Homo sapiens: one gene and its partners. The protein of the gene in region 1 purifies or fractionates together with the protein of each later gene. This does not show direct contact. Each region holds a gene or a part of one and is shown on either strand. Other genes may lie near its edges.

Region 1 (3,906 bases):
AATTCTTGTCCTTCCACTATGGAATAAACCGTTATATAGCCCAGTGTGTATAATAGAACTCTCATATGGACCTCTGCAGATCTCAAATGAGGATCTTCTTAGAAACTTGAAGTAGTAGTTAGACTTATACACCAACACATGCTTTGGGTAAAAGGAAAATCCTTTATGAAAATGCAAACTTTAGGAATTAAATGCTCCCCATAAGGACTCACTTATTCCTGCATAAGTGATTGCAGGCAGAAAAACAGAATCTGAATGAACTTGTTTTTCTTTTTTTCTTAAACTTGGAAAACCTAGAAAAACAAGAGTGGTATATAGGGGCCAATTAAAATAAAAAGCACAAGGAAAAATGAGAGGAAGTCGCTCCTCTCCTCCCAATGGGAGTATTGTGTTTTGAACAATTCATGAATGGAATTTCAGAAACTCAGCAAAAGAATACATTTAACTGACTTACTCCAAATATATTCTGAATTTCATATTTACTAAATAAAGTGTTTCCAAATGAACATTTTGTATGTTGTTACATGTAACAACTGCACATTACAAAAGGAAAGGTAGGAGAATTCATCACTTAAGTTTTTAGATGCATGTATACTTAAACTTCCACATACTCCACAAATACTAAACTCGAAAAACAAAGCACCCTACATAATTTACCTTGCCACAGATGTGAAATAATTGTAAGCATACATAAATGTTAATAAAATACTTTGAATCAATGTTAAGGGGAGATATCACTGAATGGTGGACCAAAACAAACCAAATGGCAATTTGATGTCTGTGGAAATGACATACCCAGAAGCCGGTGGCTCAGCACTGATATTAATATATCTTGCTCAGTTGTCTCAATCATTTATAGTAGTTTAATTTTTTCAAGAACACAGATGTTAAGGTACTTTTAATAATTTTGAAAGGCCACAGAGTTTATCTATTTTTTGAAGTCTTGCTTTCATTGGAATTGCTTCTTTAACTTAATGAGTAAATACAAAGAATGCACAGATAAAATAAGGGTTTGTCTTCTTTTATTAGAGAAAAATGTACTTTTCCATGCCCGTGCTTTCCACATTTTGGAACTGATACAGATCCACAGAGGCCAAACCTAAAACTAAATTATCTTTAATGTTAAAATTTAATTGACTGTGTATGTAACTGTGCAATTGCTGCTTTCTCACAGAACTGTCTAGGGTTCATTCAACAGATCATAGAAACGTGGTCTGGCATTTAACAAACAGACTAATAATAGAAGAGATATACTAATTTATACAAGAATTAACTAAACACTGTCATGTGGTTTAGTGTAGCTCAAGTTATGCATGTATCATATAACATAGGTTCAAGTTCTTTTGTCAGTCACCAGAATAACAGAGGTTGAAGATACATCTGAATAAGTGCCAACTCTTGCTGCAGCTGTTTCAAAAAAATAAATTTAAGTAATTGCGATACACATTTCTACAAATAAAATATTCCAGTGCTTACATCAATCCTGAGTTTTTAAGATAAAATATGCACTACTTACAATTACCACAATATTATTTTGGAACATGGCAATTTATTTTTTAAGTTGACTCTCTTCACCAAAAAGAGGGCTTTCATTATACTCTTCCAAGTCCTCACACTCTAAAACAAAAAGTCTAGTTCACTGACAAACCATCACTTTACAACTCACATTTTAAAGAGAGTAAATTAAATGTCAAAAGGAAACAGCTTTTAATATTCAAAGGATGCTGGTCATTTATTTCAAATTTAAAAACTGTAATCAGTACATGGAGCTCCAAATACTTAAAATTTTTAATGCCAGATTTTAGTGAAATATTATTATAGCAGGTCCAACAGTCATGTACTTTGCTTGAAGAAAATGGTTTGATGAATATGTTATGGTCAAGATGGAGCAAAAACAGAAAAAGACTGGTAGTCTTAGATCATGAAATACCATATTTTTTCACCAGATAGTGACCCATTTGTTATCACTAATAGTCGACATAACATGGTTTCCACTGAAGGGATAAAATGGTCTGTGACATGACCTCATCAAGTTAGAGAAAACATAACTATGTTTGAAATATATACTATTCTCTCAACAAATAGTTCAACAGTTCCTACTCCCTAAAAAGTGGTATGTTAATGCTGAGGAAGATGTAAAAAATGAATACACAATCTCTTCCATATTCCTGTGACATGAGCAAATATGCACGAATAAAAAAAATAATACAAAACTTATGTAACTGCTGTGGAAGAGCAACTCACTCGGACATGTAGCCAAAAATGGAGACTGATGTCCACTTAGTTGGCAAAAGATTTCAATCGATCAAAAAAAAAAAAGGACTTTAAAAGCATTGTGAGGGAAGAGCATGAGCAAAGCATGAGAGTAATGGAGAGGTCGTTCAGAGAAGGCTGTCAACCTGGAGAGGCGGGAAGAAAGACAGAAGGCAGTAAAACAAGCCTAAGAGGGGGTCATGTAAAGGGGAGAGTCTCTGAATATCTAAGAACTGACATGTGGATACCACTGATAGGCTGGGAAGAGTGAAGGGCTAGAAGCATTTTAGGAAGGGAAGAGTTTTAGGAAGATAGTATTTCTGATCAATGAAGGGTGGCTCAGAAGAGAAGAGAGAACTCAGAAAAGAGTTTAATAGTACAAGCAAGGAAGAATGAGTTCTTGAACTAGGGTTGCCTCAGTGGCAATTTAAAAAAAAGAAATTTAAGGACCATTGCAGAGTAAAACTTGCCTCATGAAAACTGTATGTGAAAGATAATGGACTCAGAAGAGTCCAAGATGATACCGAAGTTCCTACCCTAAGTGGTAACATGTAGCATTAACATTGACAGGAAAACTTTTCTAGTCTCATGTTCATACCAATTAATAAATGGTTTCTGGGGAACATTATAGCAACATGTTCTCTACTTGTGACTTCTATATAAATAACCGTTTTGTGTATAGATAATCTTTGAGTTGCTTGAAAATTCTATTTTCAAACTCTTTTCCCAGTTTATTTAACACATCTCAGTTAGTGTAGAGGAGTGACATATGAACATGTCTTTCCACAAGGTTATTAAAAAGAATATCTTACCTCCCAGAAGGGAATTCCATTGCTTCCTAAATAATATACATCTACATGAAGAAGCGGTCATTGTCCGATGACAATTTGCTAATGTGCTGTACGACAGCAGATAATTCACAATTCACAACATGTTAATAATCTGCTGGCTTTCCCATTCTGTTATACATCTGAACCATCTCTTATGATTACAAATTGTCATGTAAAACCATTACTAGTCACTAATAATTTTGAAAGTGAATATGCCATAAAACACTCCTACATTACAGCAGAAAACAAAAGAGATACTCAGTAGTTACATTTGCCTACTTCCTATTTAACTAAAACTCTTGAAACAACACAAGTAAAAAAGACATCCAGAAAGGACTTATGGACTTTCTGCCTTCCACTAAAGATTTGTCGCTGATCTCCTAAAAACTGAAAATAAAGTCTTCATTAATGTGTTCATAAGGTATCAATTTTTATACACAAGATGTATATTTCTAGGTAAAATTTCCAATTTACCTTTTCCTGTTCTAAATAACTCCTACAAAACTATTCATGAATCCTAAAAATACTGTTTTATGTTATTTTATGTTATTTACTACTTATGTTAAATCTGGAACAACACATTCAAAGTGAAAATGGTAAGTAATTTAAAATGTATAACCAAAATGTCTTTCCATACATTCAGAAACAAGCAGATTGTCTTCTATTTTTATGCATGTGTTGTATTTTATAAGAACGTATTGTGTTACCAAATAGAACAGACCTTTGTGAATTGCTCGTGTGGTGGCTCAATCTCTTTCAGTTCCTTTCCCATCTTGTTGCCACCTCTTTTGTTGCTCTTGAAATATTTTCTAGAGGCACAAAA
Region 2 (4,154 bases), on another chromosome or scaffold:
GTTTTCTTTGTTTTGTTTGTTTATGTGTGTGTGTATTTACTTAAATGGAGCTTTTTGTTTCTAATCCAAATATTTATTTTTTCTCTGCAGATGGTGGTGTGGTACCTATTTCAGATTGTTTCAGCAGTGAGCTGCATCCATAAAGCTGGAATCCTTCATAGGTAAGAAGTAAAAAAAATTATGGATGGATTCTTCCCTACCAATTCAGCCCCTACCGTGGATACCCCCCCAACAACACTTTTATTTTCTTGGTTAAGCAGCCAAGAGTTTTTCCATTGATATCACTAGGAAAGGAAAGTAATGAGCAATATTATTTTCACTCCCTGAGGTTAAACCATGTTTATGATCTAGGAAGAGTCTCCTCAGTAGCCAAGTACTACTGAAGTCATTTTACAGACAAAAATTTTAGAGTTCAGTTTGTTAATTCATCAGTAAAGCCTAGAAGGGCACTATGAGAAGTAGTATTTGGTAAGAATTCACAGCAATAATAATTGGCAATTCTTTTTAATTCTATAATTAAGATCTTTTAATTTAAATAAAAGCCTCTTCACTCTGTATATTTACTTGTACAAATTTACCAGATCTTTAAAAACAAGCATGATTGCATTCATTTCTAGCTATAGAAGAGAAGCATCTCAATAACATTTTCACATCATTATGCCCTTCTTAAGTGAGTCATTGACTGGTGCCAGAGATTAATTATAATACACTAAGATTTCTTTTTTTATTGGTTTGTTCATTCAGTTAACATGTATTTCTTGATAGCTATTAAATGGCTTCTGTTGCATGTTGTTATTTTCTTTTTAAAAGTAACAAAGTATATTGTTCTGGTTTATTCGCATCTTTCAATAAAGGAAGACATAGTGAACCAGGCACAGTTATTTTGTTTTACATATGGTCAATTTATCTTTAGAAAAATAGCCTGTGATTTTATTTAGATGACTAAATGGCCTAATCATATCATTGCAGGGACATGTAGGCCTCTTCTCTTGCCTTAACAGATTATTTGAAACTTTGACACCAACCAAGTTTGTTAAAGTTGCCTTGATATCACTTAATTCAAGGCATAAGTGATAGTTGAAGAGGTGTGGTATCTTATGGGAATTATGGTTACCTAGAGCACCATTTTCCTCATCTGACCGTCTCAACTTTTCCTAATAGCTTCAGTAGTATGGGAGATATTTCTATGCTGTGAAGCCCTAGAGGATGAAGTTAATTCTCTGCCTTCACTCCTTTAAAGTCCCCACTTCAGTGTTAAATAGCATGTGAAAGTGATGACCACTGTGGGATGTTTAGGATATCCTAAATGAATGAGCAATGGTAACACTCTTTTTTTGTTTTATTTTGTTTTAGTTTTTGAGACAGGGTCTCACCCTGTTGCCCAGGCTGGAATGTAGTGGTGCAATCATGACTCACTGCAGCCTCAGCCTCCTGGGCTCAACTGATTCTCGGTGCTTTAACCTCCCGAGAAGCTAGGACTACAAGTGTATGCCACCACTCCTGACTAATTTATTTTTTGTAGAGATGGGGTCTCACCATGTTGCCCAGGCTGGTGAAGAACTCCTGGCCTCAAGCAGTACTCCTGCCTTGCCCTCCCAAAGTGCTGAGATTACAGATGTGAGCCACTGTACCCGGCCCACACTCATTTTTATTCTGTAATAATCCTGGGCAAGGCGGGGGATGAAATAAAACAATTATCTGTGTGAACTTAATTTGCAGCATCTTTTTTTTTCAGAGATATAAAGACATTAAATATTTTTCTGACCAAGGCAAACCTGATAAAACTTGGAGATTATGGCCTAGCAAAGAAACTTAATTCTGAGTATTCCATGGCTGAGACGGTATGTGTTGCCCTTGTCTTAATTTTTATTTTATTTTCTAGCACTGTGAAATATAACTGTACTCCCTAAATCTTGCATACTTTTCTCAATATTCTTGCAAGTTCTCCATACTTTTAATGCATGTCTTCAGAAGTCTTTTTCCTGGGCCCACTAGCAGGCATTTAAGTCATTGCCCACGTTACAGCTCTGACCTCATAGCCTTTTTCCAGCACTGATTAGGGACTTATCTAAAAGCAGCAAAATGCTTTACTGTTTTGTCCAGGTTAGGATCTTTAGTAGATTTCACTTTATCTCTTATTTAATGTTTGAGCTCAAGGTGTTAGACATCTCTTTGTTTTTCCTTTGAATGCTTCTGGTTCAAAGAGAACCCTATATTTCAAGTGAAGGCTGATGCTCAGAGAACAATCCATTCTTTAATATTATACACAGTCTGAACTGCACAGGGGTCCCTTCTCACATGATTTTGAGAAAGATCATTGGTAAAGAGTAGACATAAGTTGATCTTTAGGACAGTAATCTTATCCTTTTAGGAATTATAAAACCCAGTTGTTATTCTTCTAGTTTCACAATGCTCTGTCCTTAAAAGAAATTGAAAACTGATTTTGGCCAATAATTTTTTTTTTAATAATGTCAAGGTTTGCCTGCAAGCAATTTAGATGTTTAGGGTTTGGAGTCTCTGCTTCAGGGACTCAGATGTTTCTATGATGGAGGCCAAAGTGAGCTTCTGAAGAAGCAATCATATCTTTATATGGATTTTTCTCATCAAGAACAATCTGATAAAACCAAGACTTGACTTTTTTTAGCTAGTTAAATGCAAAGAAGGAATGATATGAAAATTTATAAAAGCCATGTAAGCCATCTGAAATTTGCTTTGCTTTGCTGCTTAAAGCTGACTATGAATTTTATTAGAGCTGCTAGGGCATTCATTATATCTCATCTTGGGAGAGGCATGACTTCTTAGGACATTTTTATTTCCAAATTTATTTTTGAAGTCAGAAAATCTTTTTCAAATTCAAAGGAAATTCGCTAGCTGTGTTAGTATAACAGATGCCAAATTGGGCATTTTAAAAGTTTCATTGCGCGTATTTTAGTTAGAACATCTAATTCCTTCATTGAGTTACCATCTCCCCACTGCCAGTGTTTGGATTTTTTTCCCATTGGTGAACTTCTACTAAGTATGTCTTTAAGTTTGTGTAAAGTCTTCAGTAGGCCTTGAATGCCTGAAGCCTCTGTGATCTAGGAATCACAGAGCTATTGAGCCCCTCAAGTTACCACAGTTCCTTTGTCACAGAGATTGTCCCTTTATAATTGACCCAAGAGGTTTGATATGAATAAGATTTCTTTCCATAGTGGCATCGTCTCATAAAAACCATTTTGGAATCTGCTGATGAATGTTTTATGGTTGTTATGACTAGTTCCTAGGAAATTTAATTAAGCTGTTGAAATGTTAACATAGTTACCTCAGAAAAGAAGTTATTCTTTGATTGTTTCTTTGTTGCTCAGCTTGTGGGAACCCCATATTACATGTCTCCAGAGCTCTGTCAAGGAGTAAAGTACAATTTCAAGTCTGATATCTGGGCAGTTGGCTGCGTCATTTTTGAACTGCTTACCTTAAAGAGGACGTTTGATGCTACAGTAAGTTGGCATATTATCCCCATATTGCATTTAGCAGGTTGCAAATGGTACAGCTTGACTAAGCAGATCAACTCTATTCCCAGGCTTCTGATTTCTGGCAAAAATAACCTGTATTCAGGTACAAGATTAGTAATCTATTACTAAAATGCTATAGACCCAGCCAGGCGCAGTGGCTCACGCCTGTAATCCCAGCATTTTGGGAGGCCGAGGTGGGTGGATCACTTGAGGTCACCCCGGCCAACATGGTGAAACCCCGTCTCCATTAGAAATACAAAACTCAGCCGGGTGTGGTGGCGCACACCTGTAATCCCAGCTATTTGAGAGGCTGAGGCACAAAAATTGCTTGAACCCAGGAGGTGGAGGTTGCAGTGAGCCAAGATCATGCCACTGCACTCCAGCCTGGGCAACAGAGCAAGACTCTGTCTCAAAAAAATCTCCAACTTGAATTCCCTGTTGAAATGATCACTTGAACCCGGGAAGTGGAGACTGCAGTAAGCCAAGATCGCACCACTGTACTCCAGCCTGGGCAACAGAGCAAGACCCTGTCTCAAAAAAAAATTAAAATTAAATTAAATTTAAAAGTTCATCTCTTAAAAGCAAAAAATGGAATATGATGGTTCACTTTTTCAAGCAGTAGGAATTGGAACATTATTAACAGCAGCCAGATGATCATGCAGC
Region 3 (4,154 bases), on another chromosome or scaffold:
AACAACCTCTTCTGCTGGGGATTGGCTATGTTCCCATCGATGTTAACTGCTCAAAGACAGATTTTCTCAGCAGCAAGATGCCAAGGAACCTGCACATGATTAAGCCACCTGAATCCCCAGAGAAGGAATCCTCAAGAACTTTCCTGATTACTACTGTTCTGGTAACTATGCAGGGGGCACAGAGATAGCCTGACATATAACCAGGATGAAAATGAGTCACACTGGAATTTTAGCAACAACAACAAAAAAAACTAAGGGATCCCTGGCTATGTTCTGCCTAAGCAACTTCCAGCCCTGTGCTGACCATCGTCTTGGATGTGGAGAAGCTGCCCAAGGCCAGAGCTTCCATTTTTCCTCTAGAGGAGTCAGTGGTTCACTGAATTCTCTTTCTTCCTGTTGGACTTGAACTGTACATGAAAACAGGTTATTTGGGAAATGAACTTAATACTTCCTTAACCCACTTCTCCAAGTGCAAACCACCAAGACTCCTTCAGAAATTACATGTGCTGGCTGACAGCAATGAGAAGCACCCTGCCCTGAAACCCAGGGATATATTCCCACGGGGACCATCACACGAACTCTAAACCTTGAGCCTGAACTTGTCTTAGCAATAGGGGAAACCACAATGGCTCTAACAATGAGGTGCCCACAACGGTTATCACATACCTTCAGCATAAACTCATGCACCGGCCTGCCGATCCTTTCCTCGGCCTCCACGCTGTACTCTCGTGCCAGGGGCACAGTGGGGTGGTAGAGGCGCCAGTGTTTCTCTCCCTCCAGCTGCAGGATGAAAACCTAGAGACCCACAAGGCCCAGGAGCATCAGAGAGCTTCCTGACAACTCACACACAAAGTGCTTCCGGACTATTAGCCCTCTAAGGGGCTAATAGACAAATATATAGGTGAACCTTGAACAACACAGGTTTTTTTTTTTTTTTTTTTTTTTTAGTTGTTATAGACAGTCTCATTCTCCTGGCCAGGCTGGAGTGCAGTGTCACAATTACAGCTCACTGCAGCCTCTCAAACTCCTGGGCTCCAATGATCCTCTTGCCCTAGCTTCCTGTGTAGTTGGGAAGCTGGCATGCACCACAGCTCCCAGCTAATTTATCTTCTTTGTAGAGATGGGGTGTCACTTTGTTGCCCAGAATGGTCTTGAACTCCTGGCTTTAAGCACTCCTCTCACCTGGGCCTCCAAAAGTGATTACAGGCGTGAGCCACCACGCCTGGCCTAACAGCATGGGGATGAACCGTGCAGGTCCGCTTATATGCTGATTTTTTTCAATAAATTATATTGGAAAATTTGGAGGAGATTTGCAACAATTTGAAAAACATGAAAAATATCAAAAGAATTAAGAATGTCATAAATGCATCAAATATAAAAACATATGTAGATACTAGTCTATCATCTACTACCATAAAATATTCACAAATCTATTACAGAAGGTTAAAATTTATCAAAACTTACCTATACAAATACTTCTAGACCACCATTTGCAGTCAAGAAATGTAAACAAACTTAAAGATGCAATATGGAATAGCTGAATAAAATTAACTTTAGTACATATTGTACTACTGTAATAATTTTGTGCTACCTCCTGTTGCTATTGCCACGAGCTCAAGTGTGATGCTAATTATCTCCACATGAGCAGTTCCTCTCTCCAGTGAATTGTGTATCACAGTAAAAAATGATCTCTCAACAGTTCTTGTGTATTTTTCATCATGTTTAGTGCAACAACTTAAGCCGTGAATAACACCATGGGACCCATATGATGTGCCACTACTGCTACTGCAAGTACTCCCGAGAAACAGAAAAAAGTCGTAACGTTACAAGAAAAAGTTGAATTGCTTGATGTGTATTGTAGATTAAGGCCTGCAGCTGTGGCTACCCACCATTTCAGATGGACGATTCAGCTTGTAAACAAATGATGTAAACTTACGGTACTGATAAACACAATATTAAAAATACTTTTCCCTTTCTTATAATTTTAATAACTTTTCTCCAGGTTCCTTTACTGAAGAATAAAGTATATAACACATATAACATACAAAATAAGTGTTAACCAATTTATGCTATCAGTAAGATATCTAGGCAATGGAAGGCTACTAGTAGTTAAGTTTTAGGGAAGTCAAAAGTTACAAGCAGATTTTTGACTGCATGAGGTGTTGGCACCACTAACCCCCACACTGCACAAGGGTCAAGTTTCCGATAAAAAATAAAAATGAAAGATGAGAAATGCATGTCATTCCACAGTTAAACAAAAGTTGCCACTACTGGGTTTTATTTTTAAAAACGGAATCGTGAATCCTGACACTGGATATTCATTCTTTTCACTTTCTTAGAGCCTCGCTGAGTTCTTTATATCCCACTATCTCATTCCTTTAAATCTTCTATCAGACAGCTAAAAGCCCATAATCTCTGATGGAAAAGCCAAGCTTCAGATATTACTGAATGTCTAAATCCTGAATGTTGAAAGGGCCTGGGGAGATAGGAAAACTTCGAGTTTTTTATTCTTTATTCAGTCAAAGATATTCTATTAAAAATATTAAAAATAACATTTTGTGAAAATGTATTGATGTCAAATTGCTATCAAAGGAGAAAAAGGGGACTTTTTACCAATAACTCTGTGTTTACACCTTATATTAGGACAAAAATAAAACTATGGAATACATAAGCCAAAGAGTTAAATTTTTTTGGAAGCCATATCAGAGTGAAATCAACACTTGTCAAGATGCCAATGCTTAAGTGAAACCATGACCCTCATTCAAGCTGCCCCAAGATTTTCACAAATGGAAAATATATACATATTTTTGGCAGCTACTGAAAAAGAACAAAATGAAAGCACATGAAGGATTATTTGTGACCTCATCTTATTAAAGACCATACTTTGTGAAATTAAAGGAAAAGCCAAGCACACCTTTCTGTAGATAAATTCAATAAATACTTGTTTCAGACGAATGTGTGGCTCTTTAAATTAGTAAGGTTGGAAACAAGCTGTTCCTTTGAGACAGAGCAGGAAACCAGTTTAGTGGGATTTACTTTGGCCCAACATTTTGATGAAATCAATATCTCAGAAACTGCACAGAAAGAGCGAATACAGACCTAAGAGCCTTAGAGAATAATGTGAACTCACCCTGACAACTCTACTAAACCAGGCTCTCAACAACTCATTCTTCCCAACATGGGGCAATTTTCTCCATCTCTTACCTCGACATCATCATAATGGGGCGGCAGGCCCTGAGATCCTGCGGGAGTTATGTACACATTCGAGCCAACCAAGGAGCCAAAGTAACATTCCAGCTTCTCCTGGATCCTCCAAAGCTCATCCTTTACAAAAAAGGAAAAAAGAAAGGGTCGGCGTGGGGGAGTGAAAAATGTATTAGAAATAAGAATAAGAGCATGTTCTTGTTCACTTAGGAAGTCTTTACTGCACAACTATTATACACCAGATACTGGGAATTATGCAATGATACAGCCAATACCCATGGTCTCAAAAATCTTCCATTCCAGTGCAGAAACACCATGTAACAGACGTGAACAGATAAAGGGATGACTGACAAGGTGGGCAATTGGGAGTCCGGAAGGCTTTTAAGCAGGGAAGGACACAATCCAATTTACATTTTTGAAAGCTCACCCTGGTTATTGTGTGAAGAATGCACTGTAGAAAAGAGTGGAAGTCAGAGAGACTAGTGAGGAAGCTTCTCAGGCAGCAGCTCAAGCGAGAAGTGACTGGGGTGGTAAGAAAGGCAAGGAGGGAGGTAGAAGAGTGGGATGCACTCTAGAAGCAGCACAGACAGGACTTGCCGACAGACTCAATGTAAAGGAGCGGAGTTAAAAAAAATACTCTTGGGTTTTTGACTTGGGCAATCAGTTCCCCTTTCCACGTAACGAGATGGGAAAAACTTACTAAAAAACAAGTTTTCAGGACAAAAAAAAGAGTTTTATATTAGGAATGTTAAGTTTGGAATGCTAAGACCCCCCCCCCCCCCCCCACATGGAGATGTCTTTAAGTCGGTCTGAAGTTCTGGCAGAAACTAAGGACTGAAGATTTACACTTGGGAATTGCCTACACAAAATGGATATTTAAAGCAATGGGAACAGAAATGATAACACGGGAAGAAGGTACAGACAGAGAAGAAATAACAGGCTGGGTAATG
Region 4 (4,154 bases), on another chromosome or scaffold:
TACTCCATCTATCCATTAAGGCTTTCTACAACCCCTTCCTCACTTTTTCCACCAACCTCCTTTCTCCTTAACGCACTACAGACTTTTTATTCTAGCTGAACCAATCTGACTGCTAATTCCAAAGAGTCACCAGCCATTTTTCCTCAAATCCACATCTCTCCCTGCAAAACCTAACTTTAAACTTAAAAGCCACCCACCTATGTGCTATTTAGCATTCTGAATATTCTGTCTACACCAGGGACAGCAAATACAGGCACTAACGCCATCACTACTCCTACTCATAACAATAAACACTGCTCAATGATCACAGTATCCTTTCCCACTAATCCAGAAGCTGCGTCCAACTAACTTCTCAATGCAGTCTTCCAGGCAGTCTTCACTATCAATCAAAGCTAGCCCATGAAATAAAACCTACTTGCCATATCTAGTCCCCACTATATTAATCTGTTTGCCTCGATATATTTGCCATGAATTTTAGGTATATTTACATGCATATCTCACTTTAATACACTTTATTGTGCTTTGCAGATATTGTATTTTTCATAGATTGAAGGTTGGTGATAATCCTAAGTGGAGCAAGTTTGTCAGCTCATTTTTCCAACAGCATGTGTTCATTTTGTGTTTCTGTGTCACATTTTGGTAATTCTCACAACATTTCAAGCTTTTTCATTATTATTATATCTGTTATGGTGATCTGTGATCAGTGATCTTTGATGTTACTACTGTAATTGTTTGGGGGCACCATGAATCAAACCCATATAAGATGGCGAACTTAATCAATACATATTGTGTGTATTCTGACTGCTCCGCTGACTGGGGCTTCTCCTGTCTCTCTCCTTCTCCTCAGGCCTCTCTATCCCAGGAGACACAATAATACTGAAATTAGGCCAATCAATAATCCTACAATGGCCTCTAAATATTAAAGTGAAAGGAGGAGTCACATTTCTCACTTTAAATGAAAAGCTAGAAATGATTAAGCTTACTCAGGAAGGTATGTCTAAAGACAACAGAGGTCAAAAGCTAGGTCTCTTGTGACAGTTAGTCAAGCTGTAAATGCAAAGGAAAAGTTATTGAAGGAAAGTAAAAGTGCCACTCCAGAAAACATACGAATGATAAGAAAGTGAAACAGCCACATTGTTAATATGGAGAAAGGTCCAGTGGTCTGGATAGAAGACCAAACCAGCCATAACATTCCCTTAAGCCAAAGCCTAATTCAGAGCAAGACACTAGTTCTAGTCCATTCTATGAAGGCTGAGAGGTGAGGAAGCTCCAGAAGGCAAGTTTGAAGCTAGTAGGAGTTGGTTCATGAGGTTTAACGAAAGAAGCCATCTCCATAACATAAATGTGCAAGATGAAGCAGCAAGTGCTGATGTAGAAGCTGCAGTATGTTATCAAAAAAATCTAGCTAAGATAATTGATGAAGGTGGCTACATTAAACAACAGATTTTCAATGTAGATGAAACAGCCTTCTATTAGACAAAGATGTCATCTAGGACTTTCATAGCAAGAGAGAAGTAAATGGCTTCAAAATTTCAAAGGACAGGCTAACTCTCTTGTTAGGGGCTAATGCAGCTGGTGACCTTAAGTGAAAGCCGATGCTCGTTTACCATTCTGAACTGACTGAAATCTACTCAGTCTGTTCTCTATAAATGGAATAACAAAGCCTGGATAACAGCATATGTGCTTACAGCATGGTTTACTGAATCTTTTAAGCCTACTATTAAGACCTGCTGCTCAGACAAAAAAAAAAAAAGATTCCTTTCAAAATATTGCTGCTCATTGGCAATGCACCTGGTCATCCAAGAACTCTGATGGAGATGTACAAGGAGATTAATGTTTCCATACCTGCTGACACAAAAGTCATTCTGTAGCCCACAGATCAAGGAGTAAGTTTGACTTTCAAGTCTTATTATTTTAGAAATACATTTCAAAGGCTATAGCTGCCATAGATAGTGATTTCTCTGATGGATTTGGGCAAAGTAAATTGAGAACATTCTAGAAAAGATTCATCAATCTAGACTCCATTAAGAACATTTGTGATTCATGGGAGGAGGTCAAAATATACTGACATGAATAGGAGTTTGGAAGAAGTTGATCCCAACTTCCATAGATAACTTTAAGGGGTTCAAAATTTCAGTGTAGGAAGTAACTGCAGATGTGGTAGAAATAACAACAGAACTAGAATTAGAAGTGGAGCCTGAAGATGTGACTGAATTGCTGCAATCTCAAGATAAAACTTTAACAGATGGGGCCGGGCACGGTGTCTTACGCCTGTAATCCCAGCACTTTGGGAGGCCAAGGCAGGCAGATCACGAGGTCAGGAGATCGAGACCAACCTGGCTAACACGGTGAAACCCCATCTCTACTCAAAATACAAAAAATGAGCCGGGCATGGTGGCAGGAGCCTGTAGTCCCAGCTACTCGGGAAGCTGAGACAGGAGAATCACTTGAACCCGGGAGGCAGAGGTTGCAGTGAGCTGAGATCCTGCCACTGAACTCCAGCCTAGGCGACAGAGCGAGACTCCACCTCAAAAAAAAAAAAAAAAAAACTGACAGATGAGCAGTCACTTCTTACAGAGGAGCAAAGCAAGTAGTTTCTTGAGATGGAATCTACTCCTAGTGAACGTGCCATAAACATTGTTCAAATGACAACAAAGGATTTAGAATGTTACATAAACTTAGTTGATAAAGCAGTGGCAGGGTTTGAGAGGACTGACTCAAATTGTGAAAGTTCTACTATGGCTCAAACGCTACCACCCAGCATCTCATGCCACAGAGAAATCTTTCATGAGAAGAAGAGTCCATCAATGTGGCATACTTCACTGGTGGGTTGTTGTTTTTTTTTCAATTTTATTTAAAATCAGGACACATCTCATTCTATGTCATAGAATGAGGGAGTCTATCTTGAACCTATTCTGGTTCAGGGGGCTGCCCTTATGAAAAAAAAAGAAAAAGGCAAGAAAGTAATTACCATAGCTACCCCAAACTTCAAGCAACAACCATCCTGATCAGTAGCTATAAACACTAAGGTAAGACCTTCCACCAGCAAAAAGATTACAACTCACTTAGGCTCAGAGGATCCGTAGCACTGTTAAGCAATAAAGTATTTTTAAATGAAGATATACGTAGATCATTTTTTAGACATAATTCTATCACACATTTTGTAAACTACAGTGTGAACATAACTTTTATATGCACTGAGAAACAGAAAATCGTGTGACTTGCTTTATTGAGATATTTGCTTTACTGTGGTGGTCTGAAACTGAACTGGCAATATCTTAGAGGTATGCCTACATTTGTATATACCCCATTTTGTTCTGCAAAGGATTAAAGACACAATAAATGAACTATAACAAGTTAACAAACTAAAGATAAAGGCAAAGAATAGAGAAAAGAACCAAAAATGGTGCCAAGAAAAAGGCTAAAAATTGTATAATATAAAAACCTATTTACGGTATGGAGTGGGCCACAAATCTAGTTCTGGCTTTCTAGTAGCCATAACAAAAAGGAAAACCCAGGCAATCTAAGAGATACACAGAGAAGTACTCAGAAGGGGAGCTACCTTGGTAGTTAAACCAAACAGTAATTTCGTATAGCAAAAAGAACCCCATAGAATGATCAAAATATAGGAGACACATAACCACCAGTCTTCAAAGGGTTAGATGTTTCTCATATTGTCCCTCAGGAGAGACCTATGACACCTTACCAAAGCCCAATGTGGCAAAATTGATTTTACAAAGACAAGACACAAGCTTTAAGAGCTCTTTATTCTTTTACTCAGTTTCTTCCTTCATTGCCTCCCTAATCAGATTATAAACTCCTTGAAAACAGAACCATGTTTTCTAATTCTTATATATAGCTCCAAAGTATTTTGTATTCTGCAGAAAAGATGCAACGTCAGTGAGAATTTACACAGTGCAATTCAAGACTTTTCTGATAAAAATTATCTAACCTAAACTCAGTAATTCCCACTTCTACTACAAAAACATGCTAACTGAAGCCCCAATAGATAGAATTCCTAAACTTTCTAAACTATTACTGAATCACAATTCATGACCTCTCAAAAGCATTTTGTTTCATACATCCCTAGCACAAAGCATGCAAGGATACCAAATCAATATCACTGAACCTGATCAAATAAAATGAAACTCATA
Region 5 (4,154 bases), on another chromosome or scaffold:
AGCTATCAATTCCCATTCATGTTATCTAATATCATTCAATGTTCACGTGGATTTAGTTATTAAATGTTAATGCCTCTTATAAGCTTTAATACACTTTAAAAAAATAGTAGTTCTGTGACTAAACTGCAGCAGAAGCGAACAGAAGGTAATTGCCTGAGAGGATCATCTGTCCTCCACATGCCTCCATTTTAGTCCAATATTAAAAATTTAATCTCATAGAAAGTCTTGACTCTACTTTGAATAGTGATAACTCCTTACTCTCCTAGTCAGCCTCCCTTGGTTGGGGAGAGGGTGGATTCGATTAACTGTCATTCCAAATTACTGAATGTGTTTTATTTGGAGCAGTTAAAAAGTTTTGCTTGAGAATGATAACTGGAGAACCATAATATGTATAGGGTTTGTACAAGACCCCAAAATAGCCTTGTGCAAATTACTTTGTCTTGTCTGATATTTTATGTGTAAAATTGGGGTTAGGACAACGAATATTTCAGGTGGTTTTGTGAATTAATGAGATGTTATCTAAAGCATCAAGTATAGTGCCCAGCATGTAGTAGATACTAAGTAATCTAATTCATAGTGATAGGGACAGTAGCCAGAGCCAGGATTTAGGGCAAGGCAATCAGGCTCCTAGGGCGAGGAATTTAATGGGGCACTAATTCCCAGCGATGAACTCTGTACTTGCATGAATCAGAGGAGCGCCTCAGATTTTTCACGATCAGTGTCTTGCTTCCCTCACTGTAGTTCCTGCCCTAGTATTAGCAACAGATCAGTTTTATCACCTTTCTCTGTTTAAGCTTTATGTATCATTAAATAAATATTTAAAAGCTTGTTTTTTAGTTGGTTTCTTGTGTGTAGTAGACATTGTCTCACATTGAGGTCCTCTCAGGCTGAGGTGTATTGACTGAGGCAGCGTATTGACCGAGGCAGCATGTTACTTGCTTTTGGGCACTTCCACACACTTGTTTCTCTCTGTCCTATGTAGTAGCATCCTTTTAAGGGTATTTTAGTGTGTGAAGTACATGGAGGACAGATGCCCCTCTCAGGCCGTCACCTTCCCTGTTCTCTTCTGCTACAGTTACTTAATTATAGGACTACTGTTTAATGAAAAAATGTATTAAAGCTTGTAAGTGGCATTAACATATTCAGGTGGATAGTTAATTCCCAGTGGAGAATACCAAATGAGTATTAGATAATCCAGTAGGGATGAGAATTTGTAAATTTTGAATTTTTGAATTCTTTAGAACTGACTTTAAAATGTTAACATAAAAGCATTCTTATTTGTTAGAAATAAAGGACCTTGTTCACAAAGTCTCATTATTTAGTTCGATTTTTGGAGGAGATATTTGGACATTTAGTAAGAGAGATTAGGAATAAAAATGCCTTTTAAATGTATAAAGTAAAATAATAATTTTAGCTTTTCTGAAAGGGAAACTTGCTGCTCTTGACATTTCTCTAAAACAATTATTTGTAACGGTAGGAGACTGGTATATATATTATTAGATTGTTACATGATTTCTTTTTCCTAAAGCCTTGTTTTCTCTCAGGTGGAAGAACTCAGTAAAATACTCCAACGTGGGAGAAATGAAGATAATAAAAAGTCTGATGTAGAAGTACAAACAGAGAACCATGCTCCTTGGTCAATCTCAGGTATTTAGCTTATAGTGAGGATATGCTAACACTGTTACATTCAAATCATGCTAATGTTGCGTTTTCTTTTAATTTAAAATAAACAAAGATCAAGGTAAATGAGAATTGTTAATACTGTTGACGTCTCTCCATATGATAATGGTATTTTCGGATAATCAATTTGTTCTTCTGGAGGAAAAAGTAGAAATGTATTGTCATTCCTGTGATTTCTATAATGTTGCTAATGTTTTCAGTGGCACACTCACTGAGTAATTTTTGGCAGGCAGTTAGCCATCTACTTCCATATCTGCCTTCCTTGTGACCAGGGGCATTTGTTTTCTTGTTGATGTGTTCTAATTAGAATTATGTATAGTATCAGTCTCTCACCCTTGTGGGAATGGTGAGCCCACCACCATGGCCTTATGAATGGCATTATGTTATAAGGCAAAATAGCTGAGATACTGAGTTTTAATATATATGTGTCACAAGAAGAAATCATCTTTCCTATTAAGTTTTGCCTTGCTTCAGTCAGGACATAATTTTTGGCTAAATTGCTAAACATAGCAATAGTGCTAACTTTTCTTATCTGCATGATACGTTTTAAAAAGTCTGCATGGGGAGAGAAATTTGCCAAAAAATAAATCAATCCCTAATTCCTTGCCTTTATTTCATTATCAGTTGATAAGCAACAGTATTAAGGTATCCAGTTAGAAGTTAAGAGTTAAGTTTTTTAAATAGAACACAACCTATCTACAGATTTTTATTTTACTCTTGCTGTAGAAAATGTAACCAACTTACCTTTTTTTTTTCTTTTTAACTGACAGCTAGGGTCTTGAAGGAGACATTAGAATCAAAGATACACACTTCTGCAGATTTATCTGTGCCATCTGTTTTAATCTTTTAAAATTTGTACAGTTGTAAAAATCATGATTTATTTGAAGTATGTGCTTTTTGTGTTTAAATGCCAGTGTTTTGTAGTTAAGTCCTTTTTATATACATTATTCTAATATGATACGATTTCACTTCATTTTTTTGCTACAGATTATTTTTATCAGACGTACTACAATGACGTTAGTCTTCCAAATAAAGTGACTGAACTGTCAGATCAACAAGATCAAGCTATCGAAACTTCTATTTTGAATTCTAAAGACCATTTACAAGTAGAAAATGATGCTTACCCTGGTACCGATAGAACAGAAAATGTTAAATATAGACAAGTGGACCATTTTGCCTCAAATTCACAGGTAATAAAATGCTAAACATGAAACTGTTGATGCCCAAGAACCTGTCCTTCTTTGTTGTTATTATGTGGAAAGATAGACTTCTTTGGTCCGTCACAGCATATATAAGGGTTATAAACATTCTTATGTGTAATTATGCAAAGAATGTTGTAGTTTTTCCAAAACCAGAATTAGAACTTCTTCATATATGTAGTGGTTTTCCTACTACATTGTGTTCCAAAATTTTGTGATCTACATAAACTAAAACAAAATTTGTCCAGATATTTTGACTGAACAAAAGAACTGTGGACAACAATACCACATTTACACCTAAAAAAATTTTAATGTTCCTTTATGTCAGATACCCTGCCACTATTCAAATTTCCCTGAATCTATAAATTTGTTTTTATAGTTTGTTTGAATTAGGATCCCTATTGTGTTTGATATATCTCATTTAATCTACAGTTTTCTCCTTCATTTGTCTTTTTGAAATTTTTTTTCCAATTGAACATATAATCATTGAAGAACCTAGATCTTTGTCTTAGCCAATATTTCAGGGTCTGTATTTTGTGGATGGCTTCCCTGTGGCATCATACATTTATTCTCGAATAATTGTCACTCATTTTTAGTGCCTTCAAAACTGGGTCAAAGTTGAAGTTACTGACACACTAGTAAATGTTGTAATAAGTGGTTCAAGTCATAATTGATAGTCATGCTTTTCCTTTGTAGAAATTGAAGTCGTTACTTAAACATAGTCTCAGGTCTTGAGTTCAGCCAACTTTTTAATTGATATACAGAAGCTTTTGTCTTATTTGGCATGACTATATCTTTTATAGGAGCCAGCATCTGCATTAGCAACAGAAGATACCTCCTTAGAAGGCTCATCATTAGCTGAAAGTTTGAGAGCTGCAGCAGAAGCGGCTGTATCACAGACTGGATTTAGTTATGATGAAAATACTGGACTGTATTTTGACCACAGCACTGGTTTCTATTATGATTCTGTAAGTATCTCAGACCTTTTTGTTTTGTTTTGTTTTTGAGACAGTCTCCCTCTGTCACCCCGGCTGGAGTGCAGTGGAGTGATCTCAGCTCACTGCAACTTTCACCCCCCAGGTTCAAGTGATTCTTATGTCTCAGCATCCCAAGTAGCTGGGATTACAGGCATGCACCACCACACCCTGCTAATTTTTTGTATTTTTAGTAGAGGCAGGGTTTCGCCATGTCGGCCAGGCTGGTCTCGAATTACATCTCAGACCTTTTAATACTGTATGATACATACTCAGTGCCTGATATCAAATATTAAACCCT
Region 6 (4,154 bases), on another chromosome or scaffold:
TTTCTGTTTCTCCATTATGATTTCTTACCTCAATCATATCTACCCATTCTCGTATGTTAAGAAAGCTTTTCTCACATGTAACATCATACAGCAGCAAAACACCATCTGCCTTTCTGAAGTAAGACTTGGCAATACTTCTGAATCTGAGAAAGAGAAAACCACATCATCAGTCAGTTTGTGTTGCCTCATTCTTCTTCTCTTTTATGCTCATTTTTTTCTCCTCTTCTAAAATCAACACCAGTTGAGAAGACTCTAACTGCAATATATGACTGAGACATAGGCATTTCAAAGGTCTCGAATGACCCAATGAAAGGTAACATGATGAGAATCTGGGTGACCGACTTAGAAAATCCAATCCTTCTCTCTACCAAACAACCCCAAGAATGTCTACAATCCCCAGAGCACAACCAGGGAAAGGTTGAGAGCACAGTTTCCAAAAATTTCAACCTCAGCAACAAGCTACCAGAACCCACATGTGGGACACAGAGGAGGCTGGAAGGAGATACGAACTAGAGAATACTTATTTTTGGTGGTGGTGGTGGTTAGGGAGTATTGTGGGTGGATGGAGGAACTACCAGTGTGGAACGCTGTAACATACCAGGACTTTACATACATGGGGGTCAGGAGATTCACCTTGGGAAGAGAACACCTCAACACACATGCCCTAACTTGAAACCCAGTGCAATATTTTATAAGTATTTTAAATACAGTCATGTCAACCACAAATATTTTTTATATGTTGAAATTCCCAATCTGCTAGAGAATATGAGCACCATGGGGGCAGGTATTTGTGCCTGTCTGTTCACCACTGAATCTCAGCATGCTGAATAATGCCTGGTACAGAGGCAGGCACCCCATACTTACGGGTTGAACAATTGAATGGATTTTGTTCCGAAGGAGTTAAACAAGATTAAAATCTGTGCTTAATGCTCTGCTTATCGGTAATGAATGCAAGGTAAAGTGCCATCACCAAATGCAAGTCTGCTATGCGGTTTGTGCCTCTGCCCTTAATCAAGGGGAGCTGACTGGTTCTCTTCTCCATCATTTATTGTTCTATAGCCAGGGAGTTCCTCAGGCTGTCACTGCACTCAAAAATGCTGCCTCTCATGTTAGCAAAGGGCACTCTCTGTCTCAACTGAACATCAGCTCAAAAGAAGCTTAAAGATCCTCTTCTCACAGGAGTCATAGGTAAATGAAGGAGATGTGCGAGAATATAAGCATTTTAAAGTTATAATACATTTTATAATTATACATGTAATTATGCATATAATTATAAAGTATGTTATAATTATAGAATTTTGAGTATGAAGAACATCAAGTGGCCTGCAAGGCTTGTTAATGCAAACCCAGGATATCCCATAGCGCTGCGGAATGCACTTGCCTCTCCTGACCAGCTGTATCCCAGAGCTGCAGAACTGTTCGTTCTCCATCCACAATGAGGGTTTTCATTTGGAAATCAACTCCTGAAAAGGAATGTGAGAGTGGAGAGCACGATGTAAATAATTCCATTGGCTTTTTACTTTCAAGCCTTCTTTAGATGAAGCAAAAGCCAATAATACACAGCTCAGCCAGGGAGGGAGGAATGAACATGACCTTTAAGGAGAGTGACCTTCAAATAGGAATGACAAGTCAGACCACACGTGTGTGCAGAGGCACCATCTGCAGGTTGGCTGACTTGGGGAATGATTTAATTTATGAGCCAAGGGAAAAATCTGTTTTATTTTCCCTGATGACTGGATGAACTCAGTCATATTTGTGTGTGTGTGTGTGTGGGTGTGTGTACATGTGTGTATGAGTGGGCATGCATGAATGTGCAGGTGTATACGTGTGTGTATGTATGTGTGTAGGTGCAGATACGTGTTTTGTGTATATGCATGTATGTATATGTATATGTAGGTATATATGTATAAATGTATGTATATCTAAACATGTATACATATGCGTGTGTATATATACACACGTTAGTGCACACACACATTTACATGCATCATGGTCTCTGACAACTGAACCAAATACTGTATGTAGTCTTTTTATGAATCAAATTGAAGTAAACTTTCAGCTTTGTTAATGTTGAAGAGTGTATCAGAGAACCATAAATTTACAAAGACACTCATGTGAAGAGGACAATCAGTCTGTTCTAACATTTCGGGTGATCAAAATAAGAACTCTTTAGACGAAGAAGAAAAATAAATGATAATTTGCATATCTTCAACTCCTTTTACTATTATGCAAATTTGGGAAATCAGGATACTACTTGTTCTATTGTTCTGTTGTGAAGGTGGGTAACGGATCATATATCTGGCTATGATTTTGACCATAATGACAAAGTGGCAATCCATATTGTCACTTTGTCAACATCAAATACTTCAGCAGAAAGGGTTTTCCTGGCCACCCTGCGTAAAACCGCACCTCTCCCTAAACTTCTTTTTTGTACCTTTTCCCTCCACTGGGATGTAAGTGCAGTGCAGGCTGGGATTGTCAGCCTTCTTCATGGTGTATCGTTTGTACCTACAACAGCATCTTGTTTTTAGTGGGACTCAGGAAATACATGCTGAATAAATGAATCTGATATCTCAGGATCTAAATTTGATTCAATTCATCTGATTGGCTAAGCAGATATCTCTCTTTTTTTTTTTTTGTGGCAGGGTCTCACTCTATCACCCAGGCTGAAGTGCAGTGGTGTGATCTCGGCTCACTGCAACCTCCGCCTCCCAGGTTCAAGCGACTCTCCAGCCTCAGCCTCCCGAGTTGCTGGGACAACCAGCACCCACCAGCATGCCCAACTAATTTTTGTATTTTTGGTAGAGATGGGGTTTCGCCATGTTGGCCAGGCTGGTCTTGAACTCCTGACCTCAAGTGATCTGCCTGGCTCGGCCTCCCAAAGTGCTGGGATTACAGGCATGAACCACCGCACCCAGCCAGATATCTCTGTCATTTTAATCTTCCTTTCCTAAAAGCAGGCCTTGGCCAAAACAAGAAAGACCTTTCCATAGACTAGGAGACACACACACACACACACACACACACACACACACACACACACACACACACACATTTATATATGTGTGCATACACAGAGAAAGAGAAAACTGTTAACTGAGCATCTGTGTATGTAATCCCTGAAGAAGAGAAAATCAAGCTAAGGAAGGTCATTTTCCCATTATCAACCGAAATACGAGCCATACCCAGGGTGGCGCTTATATTTTCTCGAAATTCATTCTTGCAAAGTCTCATGAGGAAACTAGACTTCCCCACTGCAGCGTCCCCAGCAAGTACAATCTTGTAAGCCTTCTGTGAGCTAAAAGATTTAGCGTTGTCATCTACCAGGTCTGTCTGGGGGGAAAAGCCACAGTGAATGATAACGGTATTGCCAGTTTTCATCCTAATAAGTAACACTGCACAGAAAATAAGCAGTGTTCATGAATAGGAGTGTCTCGGAGACCACCTACCTGGGGCGAGAGTGCTGAGATGGGCTTTCTTGATGAACTAACAATGCTGCCTTCACTAACAGACCCTTGGGGCTTCCAGTCTAAGACGGAAGCCACATCTTCTAAACCAAATGTCTCTTCATCCCTTATGTCAGGAACCTATTTTTTTTAAAATGTCAGCAGTTAAATTAAAAAATGTCAGCAGTTAAAATACAAAGTCTAAAATGTATACATTATGGATTAAAAAGAAGAAAACTATGCAGCTAAATCAACAGTCAATGCTATTAATATTAGGGAATAGAGTGACACTGAATGGCAATCTATGAGAATTTCTCCCTAACTCTGTGGAGGAAAAAGCATTTTACTAACTATGCTTTACATCTATGACCTTTAAAACAGATTTCCATGACAGATAGAAGGCAAATAAGGTGACAGATTTCAATCACGTAGAAGGCCTAGGAGAGCAGTGGTTTCTGGGGCTTACATCTGTGTCTGAAGCATCACCTCCAAAGCTCTCCTGCACCCCGTGTGACCTCTGAAATCCCCTCTGGTGCTTGTATTCCACTTCTGAGTCATACTCATTGGGATCTCTCAAGGTAGACAAGCCGCTGTCGAAGCAGCTTTCAGGCAGGCTGTCAACTTCACAATTTGTCCTCTGCAGAGGATCACAGAGGGCCAGGGAGTCACAGTCCTCATCCACATAGGAAGAGCGGGATGACCTGGTAA
Region 7 (4,625 bases), on another chromosome or scaffold:
ACTTTGAGGTGTGTAAGATTATTATTGCCAACATTCAGATTGGAAACTCTGGCACAAAGAGGTTAAATGACTTGGCCAAGGACATACATCTGGTTATGAGTCAGGATTTGAACCCGAGAGAGTAGGCTTCAGAATGGCAGTCACTAAGCTACATATCAGACAGAAGGATATGTGAGATGGAGACACATGAAAAGAGGAAGGAAATTTCCAGACAGATGTTAAAGGGAAGTCCCCAAATTACGACTGAGCCGATGACTCCCAACTGACTTCCAAATGACAAAACACTGGGTGTGTCTGAATCCATCTGGAAAAGAGCTCCCAGTTCTCTGGATGTCTGGATGATCAGTACAGAGAAAAACTAAGAAAACAAAATATAAATCAATTAACTTCAGGGAAAACAAAAGGTTTGTATAGGAAAGAAAATGCAATCATACTACCCTGGCTAGCTCATTTGTAAGAGTAATAACAAACCATATAGTAATTCAACCAAAAAAAGTGAAAAAAGCATTGAAGTATGGGAGGTGGTGAAGAGTGTGCATCAGCTAAATCCACAGCAGCATTTCTGAAAAAAAAAATCAACAACAAAAACCAAAGTATATGCATTTCATTTCACTAGAATTACAGGGGTAAAAAGCAAAAAATTTAAAAACTTTTTGTCACTCTGCATTTCATCCTGGGATCTCCGACCTCCTAAATGACTGTTTAAAATGTGTATACATTGGGCCGGGCACAGTGGCTCAGGCCTGTAATCGCAGTGCTTTAGGAGGCCAAGGCAGGAGGATCACCTGAGGTTGGGAATTTGAGACCAGCCTGGCCAACATGGTGAAACTCTATATATACTAAAAATACCAAAATTAGCCGGGTGTGGTGGCCCACGCGTGTAAACCCAGCTACTCGGGAGGCTGAGGCAGAAGAAGTGCTTGAATCCGGGAGGTGGAGGCTGCAGTGAGCCGAGATCGTGCCACTGCACTCCAGCCTGGAGACTGAGTGAAACTCTACCTCAAAAAAATAAAATAAAATAAAAAAGTGTATACACTAAGGGTTCACCCTTTGTGCCTTAAAATGTAGGACTTTTGACAAATACATAAGCTCATTAATTTTTATCTCTTAACGCATGCATTTGAAAACTATAAGCAAATAATGTTTCTGGCTATATTCCAATAAAATTTTATGGAAACTGAAATTTGTATTTCGCATAATTTTTATGTCACTAAACATTCTTCTTTTTTTCTCAACCATTTACAAATGTATAAATCACTCTTAGCCTTCAGGCCACACAAAAACAGGTGCTGGGCTGGATTTGGCCCATGAGCTGTATGTAGTTTGCCAACTCCTGACCTAAAGCAAAAGCAAAGAGGCTGCAGATGGGAGATTTCTGTCAGTCAGGTTCCCAACAGCCCATATTACCCACAAAACAAAGACCCAGCACATGGACAGCAGCTACACCCAGAGTGCCCGCTAACAATGCTGGTCTCTAAACACTGACCATTATCTCTGCTTCCTTTCTCCCCTCAATCTTGAAGAGCCAGAGTCTACAAGGGCCTGGGGGCGGGAAGGGAGAAGAGAATCAAAGGACAGAAACAGGAAATCAACTCACTCCGTTTCTCCACTACAGGTTTCTGGGCCTGAACAAGACTCAACCTCGAGAGAGGAAGGAGAGAGAAGTGGGGAAAGGAGATAGGGGAAAGAGAGGGGGAAAAGGGAGGGAGAGAGAATAGAGATTTTAAACTAGGTAAGGCCAGACTTTACAATACCTTAAGCTAATGGGAAAGCGTTAGTCAACCCAGATTCACACAAGTGGGGAATAATTAATGTTTACACTCAGTGGTTAAAAAAAAAAAAAAGAAAAAAAGAATAAAATTGTCCTCTATTTTCAAACTACTAAAGCCTAGCTCACTCAATAAGCTAGTTACATAACGAAAGGATGGACCTTTATCCAGAATACGTAAAGAACTCTTACAAATCAATAAAGATCCTCCCAAAAGAAAAACAGAAAATGGTCAAAGGATATGAATAGGCAATTCAAAAAAACAAAACAAAAAACCACAAAGACTAATACATGCGAAGAGCTCAACAACACAAACAGTCAAGGAAACGCAAGTAAAAGCAAATATCATTTCACAAATATCGGACTAGAAAAAATTTAAAGTCCGTCAAAACCAGGTGTTAGAATCTGCCTAAACGAATGAAAGTCCCAGAGCAATGCACCAATTATTCACTACGTGTTTGTACCCCAAGGAGTCACTACCCATTCGAATGTTAAAATTAGTGGCACTAGGGCAGTCATTCTTTGGCAAAAGTCAACAACCTCCAGAAAAGAGGAACATTTCAGCATAACATCAACTGCGCTCACAAGGTAGAAAAGTTTTTTAGGATAATCAGGTGGGGAAGCCACGCCCACATTTCCTGGACGTGAGATTTCAAGTTATCTTGTGTGACCGCTCCCTACGATTTAAGATACAAGAAATGTTCACAGGGTTTCCAAGAACTCGAAACGCCCCAAAACAGACGCAACGCGGGATAAAGAGGAGAGCTCGAGCTCAGCGATCTAGGGTCTGGGCCCCAAGGCTTCCACTGCCAAGGAAGCTGCAGGCACTGACAGGCATCAGGCACACTCATCCTGACTCCACTCGCCCGCAGGCAGGCCCGCAGCCCCGTCCCCCCGCCCCCGGGACGTCGAGGCCGCCGGCGTTTCTGGACGCGGAACCCGCTCCCTCCCACCACGACGCCCAGCGGACAGAAGAGGGTCAGGGGCCCCGCGGCCCCGAGAGCAGACCGATCTCCCGCCGAGGCCTCGCCCGCGGACGACAGCTGCTGGGAGACTAGGAGGGAGCTGGGAGGAGGAGCCGCGACCCTGGCCCGCCCCGAAGCAAAACAGAAACACAATGCAGAGGCGACGGAACGCAGCCCGGCCCGCAGCCGAGCTGTTCCGCCGACGGGAGCGAGATGGCCGCCCCCTCCCCGGGCCCCGCCGCAGCCCCCGCCGCCGCGTCGGCCCCACAAGCCGCCACCGCCCACTGCCGGCCCCCCTTCGCTTGCCCGCCCGCCCTCCTGGGACACGGCCCGCTCCACCCCTCGCGGCTGCTCACCGCGCTGAGGCGTATCCCGCGGGGTGGCTGCGCCGCCATCTTGAGCGAGCTACAAAGCCAGGAACGGCCTCCGCCGCAACCCGACTGGGAGGTGGCGGAACGACTGTGGAGCCCTATGGGTACCGCCCACTTCCGGGGAGGGGCGCACGTCTGGCCCCTCCCACCCACTTCCGCCTCCAGGCAATGCCGAATTGGGAGCTTGGGGAAGATGAATTGCCTGACTGGTTAAAGCAGGGTACAGTGGGAGCTGAGCTTCCAGCGCGGGGCCCTGCGGGCCTAGGGCGCATGCGCGAGGCGCGGCCGGCCCGTACCCGTCTCGACACCCAGCTGGAGCTCGAGACTCGGGGATCTAGAGTTTGAAGCCTGGCGCGAGATGCGGTATACCCGAGACCGGTGAACTCCAGTCACTTGACCTGGTCGGATGTGAATTGCGCAGAAAAAAGCCATTCCATATCCACCAGTGTCCATGTGAAACCTTAACGAAATAAAGACGGAAATTAATGTAGACTGTTTGGATTTGCCCTGAAAACTATCAATCTAACTCATGATTTAAAAAAAAAAAAAAGAGTTCTGGGGCCGGGCGCGGTAGCTCACGCTTGTAATCCCAGCACTTTGGGAGGCCGAGGTGGGCGGGCGGATCACCTGACTTCGGGAGTTCGAGACCAGCCTGACCAACATGGAGAAATCCCATCTCTACTAAAAATACAAAATTAGCCGGGCGTGGTGGTACATGCCTGTAATCCCAGCTACTCGGAAGGCTGAAGCAGGAGAATGCTTGAACCCAGGAGGCGGAGGTTGCAATGAGCCGAGATTGCGCCATTGCACTCCACCCTGGGCAACAAGAGTGAAACTCCGTCTCAAAATAAATAAATAAGAGTCCTAAAGGCATAAGGCCGGTGCAGTGGCTCATGCCTATAATCCCAACACATTGGGAGGTCGAGGTTGGGGGTTCACTTGATAGGGGTTCAAGACCAGCCTGGCCAACATGGTGAAACCCCATCTCTACTAAAAATACAAAAATTAGCTGGGCATATTAGTGGGCGCCTGTAATCCCAGCTACTCGGGGGGCTGAGGCAGGAGAAGTGGGTGAACCCAGGACAAGGAGGTTGCAGTGAGCCCAGATCGCGCCACTGTACTCCAGCCTGGGCGACAGAGTGAGACTGTCTCAAAAAAATTAATTATTTTTAGAAAGAGAAATTGGCTGGGTGCAGTGGCTCATGTCTGTAATCTCAGCACTTTGAGAGGCTACATTGCGAGGGTCTCTTGAACCCAGGAGTTCGAGACGAGCCTGGGCAACACGAGGAGACCTCATCTTTACAAAAAAAAAATTGAATTAGCTGGCAGGGCGTGGTGGCTCACACCTGTAATCCCAGCACCTTGGGAGGCTAAGGCGGGCAGATCACTTGAGGTCGGGTGTTTGAGACCAGCCTGACCAACATGGCGAAACCCCATCTCTACTAAAAATACAAAATTAGCCGGGTGTGGTGGCACATGCCCGTAATCCCAGCTACTGGAGAGGCTGAGGCAGGAGAATCA

The links.
Region 2: the proteins of FAM9C (region 1) and NEK9 purify together in Homo sapiens (co-immunoprecipitation; one large-scale study listed by IntAct). This does not show direct contact.
Region 3: the proteins of FAM9C (region 1) and RIOX2 purify together in Homo sapiens (affinity purification with mass spectrometry; one large-scale study listed by BioGRID and IntAct). This does not show direct contact.
Region 4: the proteins of FAM9C (region 1) and SESTD1 purify together in Homo sapiens (affinity purification with mass spectrometry; one large-scale study listed by BioGRID and IntAct). This does not show direct contact.
Region 5: the proteins of FAM9C (region 1) and AGGF1 purify together in Homo sapiens (affinity purification with mass spectrometry; one large-scale study listed by BioGRID and IntAct). This does not show direct contact.
Region 6: the proteins of FAM9C (region 1) and RASEF purify together in Homo sapiens (affinity purification with mass spectrometry; one large-scale study listed by BioGRID and IntAct). This does not show direct contact.
Region 7: the proteins of FAM9C (region 1) and MORC3 purify together in Homo sapiens (affinity purification with mass spectrometry; one large-scale study listed by BioGRID and IntAct). This does not show direct contact.

Annotation. Positions count from the first base shown.
Region 1 is NC_000023.11:13,034,612-13,038,517, forward strand, and holds the end of FAM9C (protein FAM9C), read right to left. Parts: intron 3,893-3,906; coding exon 3,830-3,892; 3' UTR 3,805-3,829; exon of another isoform or gene 1,408-3,804; 3' UTR 1,006-1,407; downstream 1-1,005.
Region 2 is NC_000014.9:75,116,517-75,120,670, reverse strand, and holds part of NEK9 (serine/threonine-protein kinase Nek9), read left to right. Parts: intron 1-90; coding exon 91-161; intron 162-1,735; coding exon 1,736-1,841; intron 1,842-3,344; coding exon 3,345-3,476; intron 3,477-4,154.
Region 3 is NC_000003.12:97,958,385-97,962,538, forward strand, and holds part of RIOX2 (ribosomal oxygenase 2), read right to left. Parts: intron 3,325-4,154; coding exon 3,205-3,324; intron 796-3,204; coding exon 667-795; intron 1-666. UniProt on the Homo sapiens protein: Oxygenase that can act as both a histone lysine demethylase and a ribosomal histidine hydroxylase. Is involved in the demethylation of trimethylated 'Lys-9' on histone H3 (H3K9me3), leading to an increase in ribosomal RNA expression.
Region 4 is NC_000002.12:179,254,282-179,258,435, forward strand, and holds part of SESTD1 (SEC14 domain and spectrin repeat-containing protein 1), read right to left. Parts: intron 1-4,154. UniProt on the Homo sapiens protein: May act as the primary docking protein directing membrane turnover and assembly of the transient receptor potential channels TRPC4 and TRPC5.
Region 5 is NC_000005.10:77,032,874-77,037,027, forward strand, and holds part of AGGF1 (angiogenic factor with G patch and FHA domains 1), read left to right. Parts: intron 1-1,544; coding exon 1,545-1,647; intron 1,648-2,667; coding exon 2,668-2,870; intron 2,871-3,682; coding exon 3,683-3,847; intron 3,848-4,154. UniProt on the Homo sapiens protein: Promotes angiogenesis and the proliferation of endothelial cells. Able to bind to endothelial cells and promote cell proliferation, suggesting that it may act in an autocrine fashion.
Region 6 is NC_000009.12:82,996,984-83,001,137, forward strand, and holds part of RASEF (ras and EF-hand domain-containing protein), read right to left. Parts: intron 4,148-4,154; coding exon 3,913-4,147; intron 3,588-3,912; coding exon 3,450-3,587; intron 3,334-3,449; coding exon 3,186-3,333; intron 1,464-3,185; coding exon 1,382-1,463; intron 144-1,381; coding exon 29-143; intron 1-28.
Region 7 is NC_000021.9:36,318,768-36,323,392, reverse strand, and holds the start of MORC3 (MORC family CW-type zinc finger protein 3), read right to left. Parts: upstream 3,197-4,625; 5' UTR 3,129-3,196; coding exon 3,090-3,128; intron 1-3,089.